Linked DNA regions of Homo sapiens: region 1 is linked to region 2. The links come from fine-mapping of genetic effects on gene expression. A gene starts in region 2. The other region holds a variant in brackets. All regions are shown on one strand. Distances are from middle to middle.

The links. PIP is the estimated chance that this variant, and not a neighbour inherited with it, causes the effect.
Region 1: its variant is fine-mapped to the expression of PRIMA1 in aorta (GTEx, PIP above 0.99).

The regions. Positions count from the first base shown.
Region 1 is chr14:93,861,375-93,864,296 of GRCh38, reverse strand. No RefSeq gene overlaps it. Among named protein-coding and RNA genes, the nearest start is that of FAM181A-AS1, 64 kb to the left of the region's middle. The variant T/A (reference allele first, on the strand shown) is at 1,854.
Region 2 is chr14:93,787,510-93,790,009 of GRCh38, reverse strand. PRIMA1 (proline rich membrane anchor 1) reads left to right here and starts at 1,525. Exons shown (of 5, transcript NM_178013.4): 1 at 1,525-1,600; 2 at 2,261-2,384. The coding sequence starts at 2,292. RefSeq lists enhancers at 22-733, 734-1,447, 1,448-2,159.

The DNA.
Region 1 (2,922 bases), 74 kb before region 2:
CTCATGAGTTCTCTGGAGTTTTGCTGTGCAGTAAAGTGTTGGCTCAGCAGACCTGGATTATCCACACCCTATGCATTCCAAAGAGATATCTGTCCCCGGGCCAGCTCCTAGGAGATAACCTCTAAGCCTTTAGAATATCTTGCCTGATAATAGTGTCTTTGGGCCTGTGATGGTTAATACTGAGTGTCAATTTGATTGGATCGAAGGATGCAAAGTATTGATCCTGGGTGTGTCTGTGAGGGTGTTGCCAAAGGAGATTAATATTTGAGTTGGTGGGCTGGGAAAGGCAGAGCCACACTTAATCTGAGTGGGCACAATCTAATCAGCTGCCAGCTTGGCTAGAATATAAAGCGGGCAGAAAAACGTGAAAAGACTAGACCAGCCTAGCCTCCCAGCCTACATCTTTCTCCTGTGCTTGATGCTTCCTGCCCTTGAACATCAGACTCCAAGTCCTCCAGTTTTGGGACTCAGACTGGCTCTTCTTCCTCCTCAGCCTGTAGATGGCCTATTGTGGACCTTGTAATCATGTGAGTTAATGCTTAATAAACTCCCATATATATATGGGAGTATATATATATATATTCCATTAGTTCTGTCCCTCTAGAGAACCCTTACTAATACAGGGCCTATGCCAGATAGTCCATGCTAACAATGAGATTGCTGGTGCAGGCCTCTAGCCACACGTGTCTGTTTGACCTCTGAAGGGGCTGGGGACTAAGTAATGTCAGCCATGCAGGTGGTCAGCCATGCCTACACGACCAACCCTCAGTAAAAGCTCAGGACACAGAGGCTCAGGAGCTTCCGTTGTTGGTAGCTCTCCATGTGTGGTGTCACATTGCTCCTAGATGAATTAAGCATTGTCTGTAAAACTCCCCTGGAGGACAGCAACTGGAAGCTTGTCCCTGCTCTCTCCTGGCCTCCACCCTATGCACCCTCTCCCTTTTCTGGTTTTAATCTATGTCGTTCCACTGTTATAAAGCATAACCATGAATACAGCAACTTTTCTCAGTTGTGTGAGTCCCTCTAGCAAATCATCAAACCTGAGGGTTGTCTTGGAGACCCTTGAACACATCTGCTATTACAACATCCATCCTGTTTTGTTACAGGTCTGTATCCCTGCCCCACACCCTCAGACCATGAGCTAGGGCCCCAGGTATTTGGATCTTTGTCTCAGTTTCCTACCATCCACACCTGCTCCCTGGTACCTTCAGCTGGATACAACTGCCAAGGCTTTAGCTTATGATAGATTTTTCCTCAACTGCCTTCCAATTTTTTCTTGACAAATTACAAACCTGAGTTTCTTAGGCTAACATTGTACACGAAGGGCAGGCACACTCAAGCTTGACAGTCCCACTCAGACCACTGTCGGTTGCTCTCTAGGATGATAGCATTGTTTATAGGTTTTAGGGACCACTCCTTAGACTCTGTGAATGGAAATCCATAATGAGCTAAGTTGGACAAGCTCAGCAGTCTTAGAATGCCATACCACCATTCCTACTAAATACCACCCCTATCTGCTCCATGCTGGTCAACTCTCCTCCCTTCACCTGATAGTCTGATCCTTGGTAAAGGCCCCTGGAGCTCTGAGTGGCATTCCTGCTTGCATCCCAGGGTACGGAGGACCAGAGGGGATGACAGCCACGTAAGCACTGGGGGCACCTGAGAAAAAGACCCAGACCCTTCTCTGCAGGGTGGAAGTAGTGCAGAATCTTCCAAGAGCTGGTTTCCTTGGCAAGATGTTAAAAAAAAGGAAAACAGCCAAATCTGAGAGCAAAGAAAATCCTATTTGGTGACTTCATAGCTGGGTCTGAGCCTGGCCTGACCCCACACACAGACTAGCTGGAAAGAACAAC[T/A]GTCCTCACGATCCATGGCTGTGATGAAGCCATCTCCTCCTTATTTCACACCCTCCCCTCTTTCTCTCCTGCACCCATCACCTCTCTAGAAGGAGATAGACCAAGAAGGTTTTGCCTCTCCATGGTTAATGGAGGCCTGGGGATATGAGAGGGAAAGTTCAGATCCTCTTCGTAAATTTAATTTTTCTGTTTAGGCAACTGGCTCGGCTTCTAGAAGCAAGACTGCAATCTAAATAATATTTGTTTGGTGCTTCTTGGTTTATGAAACTCTTTTCTAGGCATTATCCCACTTGATCTTCATGATAATCCTAGAAACTTGGCAGGGCAGGAATTAACCCCCTCCTGACTCTTCCAGATGGGAAACAGGATCAGAGAGATTACGTGGCGGAGGGAACAGAGTCAGACTAGAATCTGAGTGTCTTCACGGATCTCAAGGTGGACGTTGTCACCCAGATGTCAGCTCCAGGAGGAAGGAGAGCTGGATGGGAGGCCTGGCCATGCCCACTGGAGGCAGCTCTGGACTTGCTGCCAGGCAATAGCAACTCTTGCTGCTCCATCTGCCAGGACGTGTTCCCCATCTCCAAGTCAGGCTGCTACTCATCTGTCTCATCCATCAGTTCTGCTATAACAAGACCCCTGAGACTGGGTCCTTTATAAAGAACAGAAGTTCATTTTCTTCCAGTTCTGGAGGCTGGAAAGTCCAAGATCAAGGCGCCAGCAGGTTTGGTGTCTGGCGAGGGCTGCTCTGCGCTTCCAGATGGTGCCTTGTGTCTGCATCCTCTGGAAGGGAGGGACACTGTGTTCTCACATGGTGGAGGGAATGGAAGGAGTGAAAGGGGGGCAAACTCCCTCTGTCAAGCCCTTTTATAAGGGCACCTAATCACATTTATGAGGCTGGAGCCTCATGACTCAATCATCTCCCAAAGGTCACAGCTCCCCATACTGTTACACTGGGAATTGAGTTCCTAACACATGAATTTGGGGACATACATCATCCTTCAGATCCCCACTCAAATGTCACCTTTTAGACATAGACTCCAGGAATCTTCCAGGCCAGCTAGATTATGTG
Region 2 (2,500 bases):
AAGGTCTCATTCACATTTGTCCCTGCATCTTGCTGGTTGAGGTGCAATCTGCAGCCTCGGGGCGGCGCTCTGGCATGAAGGAGGCCGCTAAGACGTTGTTCTGAAAGCTGGCTTGCAAGGTAGTTTATACTCTGCAAACCAGCGTTTATAGTGTGTGTTTACATGAGTGGCTTAAGGGTGTCCAAATACCGGGAAAAGGTGCTCAGTAAATGTTTCTTCCATGCATGCACTGTAGTATCTGACCCTCAGCTCTGTGTCTTAAGCCCCTGGTTCTCTCATCCAACCTAAAAATAGGATTGTCCAGGCCTTGAGGGCCTTCTGGAAGGCGCCCCCATCAGTCAAAGCGCTTGCAAAGTGCTTCCACCACAAGAGCAGAGAGGCCGCGCCATGCCTGTGATGCTGCTAGGCACAGCTTGTCTGAAAGAGATGCAACCAGGCTACCTCCCGAAGAACCGACTTGTTGATAATCTTGCCTCAAACAGAGGAGTTTGCAGATGGTTGAGGAAGAGCAGTGGTAGAAATGTTCTCCCCAGGGCCGTCACAACTCCTTCCCAGCCGCAGCCTAGTGTTGCAAGAGAGTTTCTGCTGCTGGGACTACAAAGGAGAGGACAAGGCCCATGGCCGGGAGAGGGGCGGCCTGCACCTTTCAGCCCCGGCGCCCGGGAGAGCCTGCGGGGAGTGCGGCGGGGAGAGTCCTCAAGGATGGAGCGCAAAAAAGGGTCTCAAGTCAGTCCTCGCCACCTTTCCGCAGCCTCGGGAGAGGCTTGGGGGAAGCGCAGGCAAGGGCCAAAACCCCATGGAAGTGGGAATCCTCGGCCTCCAGGGTGAATAAATAATTAAGCGCCCAATACACAATAGCCTCGCTAGATGGAGACGAGGAATCACTGCAGCGGCGCTGGCGGCGGCGGCGGGGGGAGCGCAACCCCGGGCGGGAGGCGGGAGAGGCTCTGGCTCGGCTCACGTCTGTTTTCCTTTTTCGTGGATTATTTATTTCGCCTCCACCCACGGCTTTGCTGCCCCAGCGGGAGCTCCCTGCCGGCGCCTCCCGCCGCTGCCTCTCGCGGGCCAGCGTGAGGGTAGTAGAGAGCTCGGGCACCCCAGTGCCCCGGGCAGCCGCGCGGCGCCACCAGGAAAGGCGGGGAGCCAACGCGGGCCCGGGGAGGGCTCGCGCGGCCGGCTCCAGGCGGCGTGGAGGAGACTTTCCCCGCCCTCTGCCTCCGCCTCGGCGGCCAGCCCTGGCCCTGGGAGCGGGGTGCCGCCCCTCCCGCCCCGCGCGCGGCTAGGCGCAGTCCGGAGCCACCGCGCCCTGCGCCCCGTGCGAGGACGCCGCTCCTGGTCCTCTGCTCAGCGGCCCGGGAGGCCCAACCGGCGCGCAAACTTTTGCTCCAGCGCCGGGCGCTCCTCCCCGGCATGTGAAGCCCCCGGGCGCCCGCGCAGCCGCCAAGGTGAGGACGGAGGCCCCGCCTAGAGGGCGGGGGACTGGGGAGGCGGCTGGCTTTAAATGGGGGCTGTCCGGCTGCTGGGAAACAGAGCTGCCGCGGGGGGAACGCGGACCTCTTTTCCCCGAGCCCAGGGTCGGCTGGGGCCGCCGCCAGGCAAGGTAGCGTGAGGCGTTGGAAGGGTGCGGGCGGAGATGGAGGCGTGGGGGAACCCACGCCCGGGAGCGGGAGATCGGGGCTGGGCGGAGGCGTGCAAAGGGGCAGCGCACGGAGGTGCCTATGTTGCAGTGTGCGCAATGAGGCCGGCTGGGCAGTGTGGGTGCAGGCAGCGTGAGATTTCTTGGGGCCGTGCATGCAGGGTCAGCGAGGGTGCAGGCAGGAGTCGGTGGGTGTGCACGGGGATCAGTGTGTGTGCACGGCTGTTTCTGTGGTTGTGCGCGCAGGTGAGTAGTGCCCGCCGGGTTTGAAGTGTGCTCACAGTGAGAGTGAGTTGTATGGGGGTTAATGGGGCGCAGTAAGTGTGCTTGGCTGTTTCTGGAGGTGTCCATGGGGCCAAGGTATGCACGCAGTATTCTGGAGCTGTGCGCGGAGCTAAAGTGTACACGCGGGGCTCTGGGGATGTGCGTAAGAAGAGTGTGAATTCTGGGACTGACGAAGAGTCAGTGAAGGTGTAAGCTGGAGTGTAAGTGCAGGCTTGGTTTACTAGGGTGCCCCTGGGTGCGGGGCGTGCCCGTCCGACCCGGGCTGGGAGGTATATTGGTGCGCGGCGGCGGAAGTGCCTGCGCGGTGTCCGCCTGACCCTAGCCTTGCTCTCCTGACAGTTCGCCCCAGGAGCGGGCGCCGCTGGCCGAGATGCTCCTCCGGGACTTGGTGCTGCGCCGTGGCTGCTGCTGGTCCTCGCTGCTGCTGCACTGCGCGCTCCACCCGCTCTGGGGCTTCGTGCAGGTGAGACGCGCCGGCTGCGCACTGGCTGGGAGGGCCTCCTGGGTAAGGGGCGAGCTGTCCCTTCCCTCCTGAGACCCTGGCCTCTTGCAGCCACCCCACTGATTGGTTCTCGGAAG